Regions from separate parts of the Homo sapiens genome. Here region 1 is linked to region 2. Evidence: fine-mapped expression QTL. A gene starts in region 2. The other region holds a variant in brackets. All regions are shown on one strand. Distances are between the middles of the regions.

The links. PIP is the estimated chance that this variant, and not a neighbour inherited with it, causes the effect.
Region 1: its variant is fine-mapped to the expression of NDUFS4 in whole blood (TOPMed, PIP above 0.99).

Annotation. Positions count from the first base shown.
Region 1 is chr5:53,732,176-53,742,480 of GRCh38, forward strand. No RefSeq gene overlaps it. Among named protein-coding and RNA genes, the nearest start is that of LINC02105, 82 kb to the right of the region's middle. The variant G/A (reference allele first, on the strand shown) is at 4,745.
Region 2 is chr5:53,555,103-53,565,407 of GRCh38, forward strand. It overlaps NDUFS4 (NADH:ubiquinone oxidoreductase subunit S4), which reads left to right and starts at 5,537. Exons shown (of 5, transcript NM_002495.4): 1 at 5,537-5,658. The coding sequence starts at 5,561. RefSeq lists an enhancer at 5,439-5,938.

The sequences.
Region 1 (10,305 bases), 180 kb after region 2:
CTCCAATACATATTAAAATACACCTCCAGAAAACATAAAAATACATACATATACACAAACTGATTACAGCATTAATGTAATTGAAAAATGTTGGGAACTACTTAAATATCTAAGCATAAGAAGTTGTATGAATAAACTATGGAACATCCACACAACTGGGTATTATATAGATGCTTTTAAAAAAGAATGAGAAAAAATTTCATATTAACTGATATGGTATGATTTCTAGAAGACATTGCTTACTGAAAGAACAAGTACAAGACGTTATATATATGTACACACACACACTGTATATAAGATATTCACATATACAGTATATATACACACATATATACATACACACAGAGACCCAGATATGTGTGTGTGTGTATATATATACACACACACACATATATACATACTTACATATTAATGTTGCCTTTTGTGTAACAAAAAGACAAAACCAGAAAACAATGAAACCCTTTACCTACTAAAGGGATGGGAGAAAAACATGCAGAAGGGATATGGGAGTGAGTGATACCTCTCCAAATATATCTTTTAGTATTATTTTGATTCTTGGAAGCATGCTAATGTTCTACATGTTTTTTAAAAAATTAAATCAATAGGGGTGAGAAGAGAAAAAAGAAGTCCTAAAATGTAAAGCAAACTGGACCAAATGGTCCCGCATGTATTTTAAATGAATACCATAACCACAATGAAGAGGAAAAAAAGAATGAATTTATCCTAGTTACTTTGAACCCACTATTTTACTTTTTACCTAGTCTTGGATTGGGTGGGATAGTGGGAGAGAATTTCAAACAAATCCTTAACTCTTTTTCGTAGCATTTTAAAATATAGTGGTACGGGCAACAAAATTCTGAAACAAATTTGGATGTATTATAAGATTGAGCAAATGAATAAATGTATTGATATTGTTAAGATTCAGAGTTTTTACTGAAGAAGAAGGGACAAACTAATATGGAACATGGAAAGGAAAGAAATAACTTTTGTGGGGCGAACTGGAATCGGAGGAATAAATGTAAACCCATTTCTAAAATATGTCTATGCGTGTCTGTATACTTGTATATTTACATATACATAAGTTTCCTAATTTTGTCCACTTAAGAGCATGAGCAAAGACACTTCAGCATGACTATAGCACATTTAGCATCAAGATCTTGATCTGTAATATCCTCTCTCCCTGAAATGAATTAAAGCTTCTCAGAAAAATGACTGAGCTTAGGGCTAGGGCAGGGTAAATATGAGATCAGTCTAGAACATCTTGATATACTAGAAAGCAAGAACACATTACAAAAGGATAATGAACAAGAACACAGGATCCAAATTAAAGGGGCTGCCACTTGTCAAATCTGAAAAAATTAAACAAAAATTTCTGTACAGTAACAAAATATAAACCATTGGAGTGAAAAATAAGAACTCATGAATCTATACTGATAATAAATAGAGATAAACAATGGGGAAGAGATGAGGGCTCTTGCTTGTAAAATGCCAAATCCTGAGTGGTAAATACAGAAAGAATGCTAGAATTGGAAAATCAGAAATTTGTGATCATTATAGGCAAGATTTAATTAGGAAGCAGGAATTCTGAAATGCCTATATGAGAAAGTTAACAGATCCTCTTCTCAAAGAAACAGTGATAAAATTGGATGAATACATAAATTAGTTAATTAATAATAAAAAATAAAGTCTCTAGAAACTGACCACAGGGCATGTAACAAATTGAAAAACATCTGCTCAGAAAATCTGCTGCATCTCAGTAAGAAAAGTGTGAGTCTGTGTCATTCATGCCAGGGGTTGCTCCTATCTTCTCCATCTCCATGTTGCAGAAATTCTATACTGTGCAGATGGGCAGGCCATGAGGACTGGTAGCTACCATCCTCCCTCAGCAGTTCCAGACATAGCACACAGGTGTCACTCCAGGAGAGGCTGCAGCAGGTTGGGAAGAGCAGTAGCTCTCATTCCTACCCTCATGGCTCTGCCTTGTGTTGTGACAGGTCTGTCCAGGATGGACATAGCATGATGTAAGAGTGGCAGCTCCTTGACCCTGCCCGACAGGGTTAACTTTATTAGCAACAGAACATGAAAAAAGCAGGGACACTATTTAAAACAAAGAAGTGACATCTAGAAGGTGGTAGAATAGGAGGTTCCTGTATTCAAGCCCCCACAGAAACACTGATTTGAACAACCTACCCATGAGAATAATATGTTTATGTGATGCACATAGTCCAGCTCAGAGGTTCCACCACCCTAGTGGAGCCAAAAAATCCAAGTATAGATGCATAGAAGGTAAAAAGAACAGTTTCACTTTATGTGCATCACTCCTCCTTCAGGTAGCACAACTCTGCCAATACAGACCCCTTTAATCTACAATTTCTTTCTTGGGAAAGAGAGTGAAATAAGTGCCCAAGTTCCCCAGTCTTATGACATACTGTTCAAGAGACCCACTTCTGTATTGTCTACCCAGAACACTGAGATCAACATAGCTAAATCATCTGAAGACAACTAGGAGCAGTGAAAATGGACAGGGAATCATAGCAACCAGCATGCAGATCTCAAGAATCAGCACAGATTCTACTAACAGACACATGGACCTAAGAGCCTAACCACAAGCTCTTAGACACCTTATTGGGAGACCACCTCCTACTAACTAGCCAACAAGTGTCCCCAGCATTGTGCACCACTTTCTTTCTCCCCATAACCACTGCATGCAATTCTCCACAGAATTCACATGGATATAAGCTGATAACTCAACTCTGCTTAGTTGGAAAAAAGCACAAAACCTTAAACATTCAAGGGCACTGTCCTATGATAAATAAGCAGGAGACTTTCAGCACCCTATTAGATTTGCAATATTGAGAGAAAGCACACAATCCTAAGATGCCCCCTTCAAGAGAAAACAAAGGAGTAGTGGAGTAAGCACATCCAGGTAAAAGGTATGAGAAACCCCTAGATTCTAGCTGGGCTGACTGGAGAAGATATTTCTCTCCTGAAGCCAGTCAGTAAAGACTAGAGGAAGTGACTACTTCAAATGCCAAGACAGCAGTGCAAATTTCCAGAAGCATACATACAAAATCAAGGAAACATGATACCACCAGAGACAAAATAAATCTCCAGTGGCTGACCACAAATAAATGAAAATCTATGCATTACCTGAAAAAGAATTCAAAATAATCATGTTAAAGAAGTTCAGTGAGCTTTTTTTCTTGTACATTTATTTATGTTCCTTGTAGATTCTGGATATTAGCCCTTTGTCAGATGGATAGATTGCAAAAACTTTCTCCCATCCTGTAGGTTGCCTGTTTACTCTGCTGATAGTTTCTTTTGCTGTGCAGAAGCTCTTTAGTTTAATTTGATCCCATTTGTCAATTTTGGCTTTTGTTGCAATTGTTTTTGGTGTTTTAGTCATGAAGTCCTTGCCCATAACTAGGTCTTCAATGGTATTGGGTAGGCTTTCTTCTAGGGTTTTCATGATTTTAAGTCTTATGTTTAAGTCTTGAATCCATCTTGAGTTAATTTTTATATAAGGTGTAAGAAAGGGGTCCAGTTTCAGTTTTCTGCATATGGCTAGCCAGTTTTCTTAATACCATTTATTAGATAGGGAATCCTTCCCCATTGCTTGTTTTTGTCAGGTTTGTCAAAGATAAGATGGTTGTAGATGTGTGGTGTTATTTCTGAGGCCTCTGTTCTGTTCCATTGGTCTGTATATCTGTTTTGGTACCAGTACCATGCTGTTTTGGTTACTGCAGCCTTATAGTTTAGTTTGAAGTCAGGTAGCCTGATGCCTTCAGCTTTGTTCTATTTGCTTAGGACTGTCTTGGCTTATGTGGGCTCTTTTTTGGTTCCATATGAAATTTAAAGTAGTTTTTTCTAATTCTGTGAAGAAAGTCATTGGTAACATTGAATCTGTAAATTAGTTTGGGCAGTATGGCCGTTTTCATGATATTGATTCTTCCTATCCATGATCATGGAATGTTTTTCCATTTGTTTGTGTATTGTCTTATTTCCTTGAGCAGTGGTTTGTAGTTCTCCTTGAAGAGGTCCTTCACATCCCTTGTAAATTATATTCCCAGGTATTTTATTCTCTTTGTACCAATTGTGAATGGGAGTTCACTCATGATTTGGGTCTCTGTATATGATTGGTGTATAGGAATGCTTGTGATTTTTGCATGCTGATTTTGTATCCTGAGACTTTGCTGAGGTTGCTTATCAGTTTAAGGAGATTTTGGGCTGAGACGATGGGGTTTTCTAAATACACACTCATGTCATCTGCAAACAGAGACAATTTGACTTCTCTTTTCCTATTTGAATACCCTTTGTTTCTTTCTCTTGCCTGATTGCTGTGGCCAGAACTTCCAAAACTATGTTGAATAGGAGTGGTGAGAGAGGGCATCCTTGTCTTGTGCCAGTTTTGAAAGGGAATGCTTCCAGCTTTTGCCCATTCAGTGTGATATTGGCTGTGGGTTTGTCATAAATAACGCTTACTATTTTGAGATACGTTCCATCAATACCTAGTTTATTTAGAGTTCTTAGCATGAAGTGAGTTTTGAATTTTATTGAAGGCCTTTTCTGCATCTATTGAAATAATCATGTGGTTTTTGTCATTGGAAAGCGGACGAAGTATATGAACAGACAGACTCTTTTCAAAAGAAGACATTTATGCGGCCAACATATGAAAAAATGCTCATCATCACTGGTCCTTAGAGAAATGCAAATCAAAACCACAATGAGATACCATCTCATGCCC[G/A]TTAGAATGGTGATCATTTAAAAATCAGGAAACAACAGATGCTGGAGAGGATGTGGAGAAATAGGAATACTTTTACACTGTTGGTGGGAGTGTCAATTAGTTCAACCATTATGGAAGACAATGTGGTGCTTCCTCAAGGATCTGGAACCAGAAATACCATTTGATCCAGCAATCCCTTTACTGGGCATATACCCAAAGGATTATAAATCATTCTACTATAAAGACATATGCACACATATGTTTATTGCAGCACTATTCACAATAGCAAAGACTTGGAACTAACCGAAATGCCCATCAATGATAGACTGGATAAAGAAAATGTGGCACATATACACCATGGAATACTATGCAGCTGTAAAAAAGGATGAGTTCATGTCCTTTGCAGGAACATGGATGAAGCTGGAAACCATTATTCTCAGCAAATTAACACAGGAACAGAAAACCAAACACCATGTGTTCTCACCCATAAGTGAGAGTTGAACAATGAGAACACATGGACACAGGAAGGGGAACATCACACAGCAGGGCCTGTCAGGGGGTGAGGGACTAGGGAAGGGATAGCATTAGGAGAAATATCTAATGTAGATGACAGGTTGATGGGTGCAGCAAACCACTGTGGCAACTGCACGTTCTGCATATGTATCCCAGAACTTAAAGTATATTAAAAGGAGATAAAAGAACTAGGTAAAATGAAAAAAAAAGAAAATGTATTTTTTTGGTATATTTGCTAATCAAGATAGATGTTGATTGTCTATGTTATGCTGTTGTTATTCTTGTTGTTTATCCATTATTACTACTGAAGAGTAGTATTTTGACCATGCATTTACCCAATTTTCTGGATGTTGTTATTCTAACAGTTCATGTTCTGAGAGTAAAATATATTTTCTTGCTTTTCTAGTTAACATCCATGTCTTCTGTGAATAACTACAAATCAGAGTTTTTGAATCAGCTTCTTTCCTGGTTTTTTTTTCTCTTCCTTGTTTTGGTCCCCACTCAGACATCTCACACAGTAGTGAATTGTGAGAGGCCAGTCCACTCCCTCTTTTAACTTTATTGAAATACTTCTAATGTTTTTGTTGATTAGTATATTTGCAGAATTTTTCCCTTTTACTAAGAATTTTTTAATTATGCTATTTTGTATGTATAATCATCAAATATTTTATTCTAGGATTTAATGTTGTAATTTTCCTTTACTTTTTTGATTTAAAGAATAAAGTTTGAATTGTAAAAAAAAAGTATAACAAAAAAAGTTCAGTGAGCTATAAGAGAGCACAGATAAGCAACTACAGAAATCAAGAAAACAATACACGAAAAATTTTCTTTAACAAAAAAATAATAATAATAAAGAACCAAACAGAAACTCTGAAGCTGAAGAATACGATGACTCAACTAAAAAATACAACAGTTTCAACAGCAGAATTGACCAAGCAGAAGAAAGAATCAGCTAACTAAATTCATGTCATTTGAAATTATTCAGTCGAGGAACAAAGTGAAAAAGAATGAAAAACAGTGAAGAAAGCCTATGGAACTTATGAAACACCATCAATTGACCAACATATCCACTGTGGGATTCTCAAAAGGAGCAAAGAAAGATAAAGGAATAGAAAGCTTATTTTTAAAAATAATGACAAAAAAATTACCAAATTTGGGGAGGGAAATGAACAGTTAGATTTATGAATCCAAAAGAACTACAAATAGACTGACCATAAAGAAGTTTTCAGCATGACATTTTATAAACAAATTGTCAAAAGTCAGTGGCTCATGCCTGTAATCCCAGCACTTCAGGAGGCTGAGGCATGCAGATCACTTGAGGTCAGGAGTTCAAGAATAGCCTGACCAAAATGGCAAAACCCCATATCTACTAAAAATCCAAAAATTAGCCAGGCGTTGTGGCACACACCTGTAATCCCAGCTACTCAGGAGGCTGAGGCAGTAGAATCACTTGAACCTGGGAGGTGGAGGTTACAGTGAACCAAGATCACACTATTGCACTCCAGCCTGGGTGACAGAAGAATAAGACTCCATCTCAAAAAAAAAAAAAAAAAAAAAAGGTCGATGACAGAGGGAATTTTGAAAGCAACAAGAGAAAAGCAATTCATTTCATGCAATCAAAATCCCCATAAGACTCTAAGCAAATTTCTCAACAGAAACCTTGCAGACCAGCAGAATGGGATAATATGTTCAAAGTCTGCCTGGAAACAGACTTGGGGCTATTGGCAGGCAGGGTTGAGGGTATGGTGGTAGTGAGGCTGGCCCCTGTTTGCATGGGAACTAAGTGAGGCCTATGACGGTCAGCTTTCTCCCACTTTCCTGACAACCTGCATGACTCAGCACAGGCAGCCATAATCCTCCTAGGTACACAACTCCAGTGACCTGGGAATGTCATCCCACTCACCACAGCAGCTGCAGCAAGACCCACCCAAGGTGAGCCTGAGCTCAGACATGCCTAGCCCTGTCCCCACCTGATGGTGCTTCCCGATCCACCCTGGTAGTGGAAGACAAAGGGAATATAATCTTGGGAGTTCCAGGGCCCTGCCCACCACCGGTCCCTTTCCGTAACTACTATAGCTGATGCTTTCTGGAAAGCAAAAACTTCCTGGCAGGAGGCCAACCAGCACAAAAATAGAGCATTAAACCACCAAAGCTAAGGACCCTCATGGAGTCCACTGCACACTCCACCATCTCCCCTGGAACAGGCGCTGGTATCCACAGATCAGAAACCCATAGACAGTTTACATCACAGGACTCTGTGCAGACAACACTCAGTACCAGCCCGGAGCCAGGTAGATTCACTGGGTGACTAGACCCAGAAGAGAGACAACAAACACTGCAGTTTGGCTCACAGGAAGTCACATCTATAGGAAAAAGGAGAGAATACTACATCAAGTGAACACCCCGTGGGACAAAATAATCTGAACAACAGCCTTCAGCCCTAGACCTTCCCTCTGACAGAGCCTATCCCAATGAGAAGGAACCAGAAAACCAACCCTGGTTAAATGACAAACAAGGCTCTTCATGCCCCCCAAAAAATCACACTAGTTCACCAGCAAAGGATTCAAACAAGGAAGAAACCCCTGATTTACCTGAAAAAGAATTCAGAAGGTTAGTTATTAAGCTAATCAGGGAGGGACAAGAGAAAAGTGAAGCCCAATGCAAGGAAACCCCCCAAAAAATGATATAAGAAGCAAAGGGAGAAATACTCATGGAAACAGATAGCTTAAAGAAAAAATAATAAAAAATTCAGGAAACTTTGGATCCACTTTTAGAAATGCAGAATGCTCTGGACAGTCTCAGCAATAGAATTGAATAAGTAAAAATTCAGAGCTCAAAGACAAGGCCTTCGAATTAACCCAATCCAACAAAGGCAAAGAAAAAAGAATAAGAAAATATGAACAAAGACTCCAAGAAGTCTGAGATTATGTTAAATGACCAAACCTAAGAATAATTGGTATACCTGAGGAAGAAGGTAATTCTAAAAGTCCAGAAAACATATTTGGGGGAATAATTGAGGAAAACTTCCCCAGCCTTATGAGAGACCTAGACATCCAAATACAAGAAGCACAAAGAACATCTGGGAAATTCATTGCAAAAAGATCTTCACCTAGGCACATTGTCATCAGGTTATCCAAAGTCAAGACAAAGGAAAGAATCGTAAGAGATTTGAGACGGAAGCATCAGGTAACTTTAAAGGAAAACCTATCAGATTAACAGCATATTTCTCAGCAGAAACCCTACAAGCTAGAAAGGCTTGGGCATCTATCTTTAGCCTCCTCAAACAAAACAATTATCAGCCAAGAATTTTGTATCTAGCAAAACTAAGTATCATATATGAAGGAAAGATACAGTCGTTTTCAGACAAATGCTGAGAGAATTCACCATTACCAAACCACCACCACAAGAACTGCTAAAAGGAGCTCTAAATCTTGAAACAAATCCTGGAAACACGTCAAAATGGAACCTATTTAAAGCATAAATCACACAGGACCTATAAAACAAAAATACAAGTTAAAAATCAAAAACAAAAAACCAAAGTACACAGGCAACAAAAAGCACGATGAAAGCAATGGTACCCCACATTTTCAATACTAACATTGAATGTAAATGGCCTAAATGCTCCACTTAAAAGATACAGAACTGCAGAATGGATAAGAACTCACCAATCAACTATCTGCTGCCTTCAGGAGACTCATCTAACACATAAGGACTCACATAAGCTTAAAGTAAAGGGGTGGAAAAAGACATTTCATGCAAACAGACATCCAAAGCAAGCAGGGATAGCTATTCTTATATCAGACAAAACAAATTTTAAGGCAACAGCAGTTAAAAGAGGCAAAGAGGGCCAGTACATAATGGTAAAAGGCCTTGTCCAACAGGAAAATATCACAATCCTAAACATATATGAACCTAACACTGGAGCTCCCTAATTTACAAAACAATTACTAACAGACCTAAGAAATCAGATAGACAGCAACACAATAATAGTAGGGGACTTCAATACTCTACTGAAAGCACCGGACAGGTCATCAAGACAGAAAGTCAACAAAGAAACAATGGATTTAAATTATACCTTGGAACGAATGAACTTAACAGATATATACAGAACTCATCTAACAACTGCACAATACACATTCTATTCAACAGTGCATGGAGCTTTCTCCAAGATAGACCATATGATAGGTCATAAATTGAGCCTCAGTAAATTTAAGAAAATTGAAATTATATCAAGCACTCTCTCACACCACAGTGGAATAAAACTGGAAATCAACTCCAAAAGGAACCTTCAAAACCATGCAAATACATGGAAATTAAATAACCTGCTCCTGAATGAGCACTGGGTCAAAAATGAAATCAAGATGGAAATTTAAAAATTTTTCAAACTGAATGACAATAATGACACAACCTATCAAAACCTCTGGGATACAGCAAAAGTGGTGCTAAGACGAAAGTTCATAGCCCTAAATGCCTACATCAAAATGCCTACATCAAAATGCCTGAAAGAGCACAAACAGAAAATCTAAGGTCACACCTTGAGGAACTAGAGAAATAAGAACAAACCAAACCCAAACCCAGCAGAAGAAAGGAAATAACCAAGATCAGAGCAGAACTAAATAAAATTGAAACAAAAAATATAAAAGATAAATGAAACAAAAAGCTGGTTCTTTAAAAAGATAAATAAAATTGATAGACCATTAGCAACATTAACCAAGAACAGAACAGAGAAAATCCAAATAACCTCACTAAGAAATGAAACAGGAGATATTACAACTGACACCACTGTAATACAAAAAATCATTCAAGACTACTATGAACACCTTTATGCATATAAACTAGAAAACCTAGAAGTGATGGAAAAATTCCTGGAAAAATACAACCCACCTAGCTTAAATAAAGAAGAATTAGATAACCTGAACATACCAATAACAAGCAGAGAGATTAAAATGGTAATTAAAAAATTACCAACAAAAAATAGTCCAGGACCAGATGGATTCACAGAAAAATTCTACAAGATATTCAAAGAAGAATTCATACCAATCCTTTTGACACTATTCCACAAGATAGAG
Region 2 (10,305 bases):
AGGAGTGGAGAACAGGAAAATGGTGGTAGGATCAATAGATTGGCATTTCTTAGGGAATCAAATGATGATTAGAGATCCAGGCTTCTTCCACATCATTATTCTTTCATCATTAAGTATAGCTATTGTCCTCATGATCTGAGTTTTCACACTTAGCTCCAGGCAGCAGGATAAAAGAAGTAAAAGTAGGGGAAAAGAAGTGTGACTCTTATCTGCATTTAAAGGAGGTTTCCCAGAAGTTGTCACATGATACTGCCCCCTTGTATTTCAATGGCCAGAACCTAGTCACATGGCTACTCCTAGCAATAAAGAGGCTGAAAAATAAAGTCTTTATTCCAGAAACCAGTAAAAAAATAAAATAAAATAAAATAACAGGTTCTATTACCACAAAAAAGGGGAGGAAATATATTAGGGCAGACAATTACTATATTTCTTTGATTCTAAGATGTGCATTTTCCCACAGTTTACCTCTCTGAAATCAAGACATATAATTAGTACTATGTCATGGTTCAATTGCTGCATTGTTTTCTTTCTTAATAGTACAGAAAATAACGGTGCCTTTTACAGTTGATGACATGTATTAGAAGAAAGATGATAGTACATATCTTGCCAAGGCAGAGATACTGAGGGGAAGAACAGATTTTCTTGGGGCAAGAGAAAGGGGTGAAATAGAATTAGTTTGGTTTTCTATATGTTAAGTTTGAGAATGACCTATGTGCAGTTGAAAATTTAGGGCTGAAACTCCAGCGGGTGATGAAGTATGTTCTGAAATTTATGTGGGAAAACTCCTTGAGTTCTTAAGAATGTGATTATTTGTACCTCTTGTTTTCCAAAAATAATTTCAAGTGACAGATCTTCACTATAGGTAGAAATTCTTTCATTTGTTGCCAAAGCCTCAGCTGCACTGCTAGATGTCATGATAATTTTATAAGATGATAAGGTATTAAGTTTTTCAAATAAATTAGCAGTGAAAAATGAGATGTGATAAAAAAATTAGTTTGCAGCCAATAAAGTGATGGTGGAATTTTGTCATGTCTATAGTGATTGTATGTGAAACTTCTGATAGAAATGTCTGGTTTTAATTTATTTTTTTCTGGATGCTTTACTAAAGACCCATGTGCAAGGGGAAAAATTAAAAACAGACAACTTTGGATCCACTGTAACTTTCACATGCCATCAGAAAGTCTAAGATAAATGTTTCATTTGGCAATCATGGATGAAGTGCAAGCAAAAAGTAAAGTCAATTTACATTTTAATACTCCTATTTGAAATAATAAAATGGTATTTGGACATAGGCATTTTACTACGCTTACTGGTAGAATGCATAGTTTGGTTGAAGTTATAAAAAAATGCACACAGCAAATTATTTCTGTTCCACTCTCAGGTCTATATCCTTATTTGAAATGTAAGAAAAAAGGAAATGAAAGAGGTTATTACATTTTTTTAATGCAAGCCCAGTAAAAGGTAAATTTATCTTTTCCGATCTCTTGCCAGCAACGTGGAGCTCCTGTCCCCAATATCTCACCAAGTTCTTCAGGAAATGGCAACTGATCAAAGATGAAATTTTAGAAACCAATAAGATCTATAGACCCAAGACAGCAATCACATTAATTTGTATGAGCTTTTCCTAAGCAAAATAGCAAATAGAGATAGCACTGTTTTTTTTCATTTTTTTGACATTTTAAAAGTTCCAGTTACTTTCATTCACTTATTCCATACATCCTTTGGAGGCTGCTATATGTGAGGGACTAGGCTAGATACTGGGAAAATGATAATCAAAATCAGATATGATCCTTGTCTTCAGATAACTTACTTTACATTGTAGAGAAAGTGACAATGATAGTGTATTAAAACTGAGACATGAGAGGTGCTACGAAGAAGGAAGATGTGATGCTAGGAGAGTCTACAGAAAGAGCTGACATAAAGGGAAGTCAGAGAAGTATTTTTCATGTAAGAGCATAGGAAAAGATGTTTTTGGATGCAGAATATCTAACTAATGGAGGTTTAAACAATTAAGTCATTTATTACCTCATGTAACAGGAAGTTTGGAGGTATTTTCATCAGGTTTGGTTTAAAAGTCGGTTCAGGATTGGCTCAATGATGTCAACTAAGCCCTAGGCTCTTTTCCTCTCTCTATTCCTCCACCCCTTCTTGTTAGCTAAGCTCTTATGCTTGTCCCTTCTAGTTCAGAAGATGCCACAGTTCTAGGCATTATGTCCTCATATAACTGCATTCAGACGCAGGAAAAGAGGTATTTCTTCTTGTATGTCTTTTTTTTTTTTTTTTTTCAGAAGTCTTTTTTCTCAAAAGGGATTTCAGATCCTGTTGGCTTTGGACATGTTCATGTGCTAGCTGCAGGAGCTAATGGGAAAGCCAATATACAGCAACTTTAGTCTCTATCATAGGAGTCAGGCTCTGTCAGCAAGGATGGCGGAGGTGAAAAATGCCTGTAAGACGTAGTTTCTACCATGGGGAGTGACTCTGAAGGATGTGACTCACAGCTGTGATCTGAAGGGCAAGGAGGATGACTAGAGAAGAGGCAAAGAAGTGGACTCTAGTAGTTAACAACTTCTGGGGCAGCACATTGAAATAACAAAATGGCACTTGGACCTAGACATTCTATTAAGCTTAATGGTACAGCCTGTGGTATAGGTGAAATAGTATAAATAAATGAACATACCAAGTTATTTCTGTTCCATTCTAACACCTATATCCTGTATATAAGGTCAGAAAGGACCTCAGGAATGGGCAGCTGAGGGAATCCAGCAGAAAGTGAAGGGAATCAAAGATTCCACTAGGGTTCTGGCAATGCTGATGTTGGATTATGGGCTGTACAAAAGACAAAGAGACTAGAGACCGGGGGCTTTCCTGGGGAATTCAGATCCATGGAAGTTGGGGACTAGAATAGGTGTTAGGTGGAGAGGTTGAGCTTTGGTTGGTAGGGCCAGTAACAGGGCTATAGGAAGTTGCTCTTATGAACACTGGGACACATCCCATTATTCCTTCACATAGAAAATCTTTATTAAAATTCACCCAGACACCAAAGCCACCCTTGGGCTTAAAATTTCTCTCTGAAATAGAGAACCCAGAAATAGCCACACACAAGTATGGCCAACTGATATTTTGACAAAGGTGCAAAAGGGACTCCATGGAAGAAGGATAAACTTTTCAATAAGTAGTGCTAGAGCAATTGGATAGCCACAAGCAAAAACCTGAACCTAAACCTCACACCTATTAATGGAAAACTTAACTCACAAAAATTACATAGACTTAAATGTAAAAGGCAAAACTAAAACAACCTTTGAAAGAAAACAAGATAAAATCTTTAGGATACAGGATTAGAGAATAGTTCTCAGACATGACAGCAAAAGCACAATCCATAAATTTAAAAAATGAATAAACTGGACTTCATCAAAATTAAAAATATTTGTTCTGTGGCAGATCTTGTCAAGAGAATGAAAATACAAACTACAGATTGAAGAAAATATTTGTGAATCATGCATCTGACAAAAGACACATCTAATATATGAAGAACTCTCAAAATGTACAGGTAAAAAACCAAATAATGCTAATTAGAAAATGGGCAAAAGACATAAGGACATTTAACTGAATGGAATATACAGATGGCAGATAAAAACATGAAAAGATATTCAACATTATTAGCCACCAGGGGAATAAATGTAAAACTGTGATGAGGTATTACTGCACATTTATTATTTACTTTAGCTCAGCTAAAACAAAAATAGCAATAATAGAAAATGCTGGTGAGGATATGGAGAAACTGGATCTCTCATACATTGCTGGAGGAAATGTAAAATGTTACAGTTACTCTGGAAAACAGTTTTTAATTTCTTTAAAAAATGACACATACATGTATCACATGACCTGGCAATTGCACTCCTGGGCATTTATCTCAGAGAAATGAAGATTTTTGTCCACATAAAAACCTGTATTCAATTGTTTGCAGCAGTTTTATTTGTAATGGCCCCAAATGGGAAACAATCAAAATGTTCTGCAATAGGTGAATGGTTAAACAAATTGTGGTACATCCATGTCATGGAATATTACTCAGCAATAAAAAAGGAATGAACTATTGATAAACACAACAACTTGGATGGGTCTCAAGTGCATTATGCCAAGTGAAAGAAGCCAATCTTAGAAGGTCATGTACTGCATGAGTCCATTCATATAACATCTCAAAATGTCAAAATTATAAAAACAGAAACAGAGATCACTAGGGTTAGGAGGGCAGGTGTTACCAAAAAGGTTAGCACTAGGGAGATCTTTGTGAGGGTGGAATAGTTCTGTATCTTGATCATGGTGGTGGTTACACAAAATATGTAGTAGAATGACATAGGACTACACAAATACTTTATATCAATGCCAGTTTCCTGGCTTTGATACTGTACTAGAGTTATACGAGATGTAATCACTGGGGGAAACAGGTACACAAGACATCTGTACTATCTTTGCAACTTCATGTGAATCTATAACTATTTCAAAATGAAAAGTTTGAAAGAAAATTTTCTCTGAGGCATCTCTCCCTTGCCTTCCTTCATCTTGTGCATTTCTTTCCCTGAGTATGACTTTTTCTCTTTCTTTCTCCCTTTCCCTTATGTACTGGGTTTTCCTTTAACGGTCCATAATGCCAAACTATGTCATTCCCCATCCTCCTATTGTTCCTATTTATTTAATGAAGGTTATGTTTTCATGTGCTTAATTTTAAAAGCAGGAAAGTACTAACTCTTTAAACAAATTTCTTAAAAAACAAAACCCAAAACTAACCTGCTTTTTATTTTATATAATTCAGTTAGTCATTATTCTTTAAGGTCGGAAGTCCACAATACAAACATGTTTCCAACACTTGTATTGGAAGATAATTTTTGTTTTATATGCATGGAGCATTAATATCATTCTTCATGTCTATGGATTATGAACACACACACATTCAGGATTTACTGGGGAAACAGTGACATCAAATATTATGTTCTATTGATTCTTCATATAAATCTACATGTCAAAAAATAATCCTTTGCCAGATCACGTATCCAGATTTTTCGTTTGGAAAATACGAACATTACTACTACAGAATATCAAACTGAATACAGCCCTGTCCTGAGGGCTTGCAAAGTGAATCTGGCAATACTTTGGAAAAGTACTACTGCAGGTTCTCAAGGACCCAAAGAGCTCTCCAGCTTTTCCAGTGGGTTCAGCCCCAAATATCCTAATTTCTTCAATAAATTACGAGTTGCAGGTGTTTAAATATGCAAGTATATTTTGGTCTTTTCGTTATCATTGTAAAACACCAGTCCTAACAAGCAGTAAAGATTACACTTTATGGTGGTAATATTTACAGTTAATGCACTTCTGCATTTCTTCCCGCACATTTTTCTTCTTACTTATTTAAACTAAGCGTTTCCCCTCTTTTTTTAAGCCCCAGTATTAAAAAGAAAATAAAATCCCAAAGAATTTCGCAACATTGCGATTGCACTGGCTTGAGAACGAAGGAAGTTAGTCCCTTGCGGTGATCCGTCCTTTCATCCTGGCGTTTGCCTGCAGCAAGATGGCGGCGGTGTCAATGTCAGTGGTACTGAGGCAGACGTTGTGGCGGAGAAGGGCAGTGGCTGTAGCTGCCCTTTCCGTTTCCAGGGTTCCGACCAGGTAATAGAATTTTCACACTTTTCTTCAAGCTTCTTGGGTCCCTCCATTTTTGCGGAGTCTCTGCTGGCTGAGTTCCGGAGGAGGCCTCGGGGAAGGCGTCCTCTGTTGACCCTTTTCTCGGGAGAAGTCGGGCGGACTAGGGACTGTCTGCTATCAATGGGCGTTGGCCAGGCGAGTGAGGGCGTGAGTGCGAGGCCGGGGAGGAGGACCTGTGGTTTTCTGGAAGCTTTCGTATTCGGCTTGTCGCTGAGGGAGAGGGTCCGTGGAGGTTTTGCCTCCGGAGCTGCAAGCTGAACCTTAGCCCTCAGAGAAGGGGAGGAGTCTCACTGATTTCTGTTTCCACTTTCTGCATCCCTTCCATTTGTCACCTGTTTGCCCACCACTCCAGTCCTTACAGAAGGGTTAAATCACTGTATCCCTTCCATGGTTTTAAGTGGTTTTAATTTGGTTTCTGCATAGGAAGATTGTTTATTCATCAGTCTGCTTGGGAGGAAAACTTGTTTGGAATTCAGTGTTAGTAAAAATATCACTGCTAGTAATATTGGAAGGTAATTTTTAAAAGGCTGGTGGTAATGCCTGGAGGTTTTCTAGGGATTTTGTTAAAGCCTCACAATAATTCAGGGATTGAATTGAGTTGTTGAGGGCTCTTTGCGTCCTTGAGAACCTAAAGTAGTACTTTTCCAAAGTATTGTCAGATTCAGTTGTCAGTTGATTGAGTTGTTACTGTTTTTCCTTGAAGCATTTTTGTGATGATTTTTTTTTTTTTGGCTGTATTAACCTTCCATTTTCTATTTTTCAGAATTTCCTGGAGTTTTTTAAATTATAGTACTAATGCTATACGTACATACACACACATATTAGAACAAAGATTGGAAAGACTGGATGGAGAGATTTGAAGGGGGTAGGAGGTGGATGCAAGTGGTTAAAAGTTGAAAGGAAGGTCTAGTAGAATGCTAATTGATTTAGTGTTAAATATAAATGGAATGCAGAGAATTAGGATGAGTTAATTCGGAAGAATTTTTAAGGATGAGTTTTATTAAGGTTTAAATATAGTGGGTGTTGGGTGGGAAAGAAGAGAGTGTCCCGTAGGGTCCGTGGCTTATGAAAAGGCTTGAAAGCATTAGTTAAACGATTACTAAATACATAGAATAGAGTCACTCAAAAGTAAGGGTGCTAAGATTGGGGAAAGGCAAATGATGTTTGTAATTAAGTGTTCCATATATGGAAAGTATTTTTCCTTTTTCTTTCTCTTTTTTTTTTTGAGATACATTCTCACTCTGACGCCCAGGCTGTAGTGCAATGGCGTGATCTTGGTTCACTGCAACCTCCGCCTCCCGGGTTCAAGCAGTTCTCCTGCCGCAGCCTCCTGACTAGCTGGGATTACAGGCGCGCACCACCACACCTGGCTAATTTTTGTATTTTTAGTAGAGGCGGGGTTTCACCATGTTGGTCAGGCTGGGTTAAGTATTTTTCTAAGGTAAAATACTTCACTGGTTAACTTAGAGTTAATATAGCGGTGACCAAGATTAGCCCTTCCTCCCGTACAGATTATAGGGATTAATTGTCATTCCCAGATAATAATGTACTCATGGTAGCCCCAGAACTGAAAACAAGTTTGAAGGGACCACTGGTTTATGGCTAATCAAAACATGGCTGTAATTTTAAGTCAAAGCCATTTTGTCAGCAATTATAGTAATTGAAGTTGAGATTAGATTTTTGAAACTCTGATGATAATTGTTACTACATATCCAAACTTAAGAGTTTTTGCCTGCAAATGTAAGAGATTTGAAAATAAATCATTTAATCTTGAAAAAAAATCTTAATGCCAGGGAAGACGTTTTTTAAATACAAATTAACACATTTATTTGTTTTCTGTGCCACATTTTTACCCTAAGAGCTTGTCATGTTCATCCTAATTTGAGGGAAATTTATAGACCCTCTCCCTTACATATTGTTTGTTCTTCATCCTTAAGCATTCTTTTTCCATTATGATTTGATAGTAATGAGGATCTGAAAAAGGTGAGTAGAAAGAACCAATTAATGGGAAAATCTACATCTAAAATTCATTTTATTGTAATGCTTAGAAAAACATTTGCAAATCATGTAACATTTCAGATCATTTGAATAGAATATGGGAAGTGGAATCAGTAAGGTAAGGAGTGGAGTAGGGAACTGAAGGAAAGGAAGGGCCGGGCGCGGTGGCTCACACCTGTAATCCCAGCACTTTGGGAGGCCGAGGCGGGCAGATCACAAGGTCAGGAGATCGAGACCATCCTGGCCAACACGGTGAAACCCCGTCTCTACTAAAAATACAAAAAATTAGCCAGGCGTGGCAGCGTGCGCCTGTAGTCCCAGCTACTCAGGAGGCTGAGGCAGGAGGATGGCGTGAACCCGGGAGGCAGAGCTTGCAGTGAGTCAAGATCGCGCCACTGCACTCCAGCCTGGGCAACAGAGCCAGACTGTGTCTCAAAAAAACAAAAAAAAAAAAAAAAAAGAAAAGGAAGGATGCTGTTAGCTGCTACATTAACATATTAATTCAATTATAGTATATCATCAGTGAAAAGCAAAACAAAGAATGCAACAACACATACACACAAGAGAGAAAAAATCTAGTAATGTGGGTGATTGAGCTGATCTAGTTACTTACTGAGCTTGTGCTGTAGTGTTGGTCTCAGTTTCCATGTGCTTCTCATTTCCCTGTACCGAATGTGAGGAGGCAAAAAAAGGGGTTAAATTGTCTACATTTTTTTTTTTTTTGGAGATGTAGTTTCGCTCTTGTCACCCATTCTAGAGTGCAGTGGCACAATCTCAGTTCACTGCAACCTCTGCCTCCCGGGTTCAAGCGATTCTCCCGCCCCAGCCTCCAGAGTAGCTGGGATTACAGGTGCCCACCACCTCGCCCAGCTAATTTTTTTATTTTTAGTAGAGATGGAGTTTCACCGTGTTAGCCAGGCTGGTCTCAAACTCCTACCCACAGGTGATCCACCCGCCCCGGCCTCCCAAAGTGCTGGGATGACAGGCGGGAGCCACCGCGCCCATCCCTAAGTTGTCTACATTTATCCTTACTTTCCCTGACTTTCCTAAGAGATTTTCCAGGGTAAATTTAACTATTCTAAATGCATTTATCAGCCAGATGAAATGGCACTCTATTTCAAAATAGCTATACTTAAGATATTTGATGCAGTGATGTTTTTATTCACTTATTTAAGTGTGTTCATGTATACTTATCTCACCTTAGTATTTACTAGGTCTTGTGTTTTCCTCAAACAAGTCCTTAGGGTGTTAAATCACCCAGAGGGTTTTAATTAATGACTGGTGGGGACTGAGTGTTTGGGACCTGTTTGTGAGGTCTCTTTTATGCCCTGATCTGTGGCTTTATTCTGTTGCTGTGTTTGGTTCTTCAGCATTATATAAGCTAGCATGAAATTGAGTCTTCAATTCGATGGGGAATTGAATTTGAACCCTCCAAATAGTAAGCAGTCCTTAAGGTTGACAAGAATTCTGTTTGTTAACACCTTGCTGGGAAATAGGCTAAGCTCAAATTTAGGACACTTAAGACCAATAGGTTCACTTCTACTTCAGATAAACTAAATAAATTCCTCTCCTAGGGGCAGCTATTTTTGCTATCTTTGTAACACATCCAAGCCAAAGTTTGAGAGCTTGAAAGATTTCTAATATGTTTTCTGATAGGTTTATTTGTTTTGTTTCTTTTCCTCTTTCCAAATGCCCATACTTAGTTTTCATCAGTAGCAGACATCTTCGTTGAATTTTTGTTAGGAAAATAATTATTATATTTTGAGACAGAGTCTCATTCTGTTGCTCAGGCTGGAGTGCAGTGGCGCAATCTTGGCTCATGCAACCTCCACCCTCTGGGCTCAGGTGATCCTCCTGCCTTAGTCTTCACAGGCAGCTGGGACTGTAGGTGTGCTTGCCACCACGCCCAGCTAATTTTTGTATTTTCAGTACAGACGGGGTTTCACACTGGTCTTGAACACCTGACCCCAAGTGATCCGTGTGCCTTGGCCTCCCAAAGTGTTAGGATTACAGGCATGAGCCACCGTATCCAGCCGGAAAATTAAATATTTTAATATGTAATGTCGGCATATAGTAAGCCTTCCCTAGATAAATGGTAATTTTATTATTGGTTTGAATGGCCTGAATGTTTTTCATTTCTTTAATCTTGGTTGTAAGTATTGTGATAGATTGTGTTATTGTTTAAAGTATTCACTACCACTGTCTGCAACAGGATTACATATCCAAAAACCACTGGCCAAATGACTTGCTTTATCCAGTGAAATGTTAGTGGAAATGATATACCATGTCAAACAGGAGCTTTGAGAGCTCTCCTGTGTTTTGTCATATTCCTTTTCCCTCTGATGTGAGGTAGGTGTACTCCAGGTGGGGTCTGCTGTTTTAGCCCACATCTTGGATTGTAGACTACATAGTGCAAAGCAGAAACTGATTCTTATTGCAAGATTTTATAAAATATAAATTGAGTGAAAAATAAACCTTTGCTGTAAGCCACAAAGGTGTTTGGATTGGTTACCTCAGCATAACAACCTATGCTGACTCTATTTTATATACACTCATATTTGCAAGTGAGCAGGTTTTAGCACATGGACCGATATATCAGCAGTGAGGTCGCAA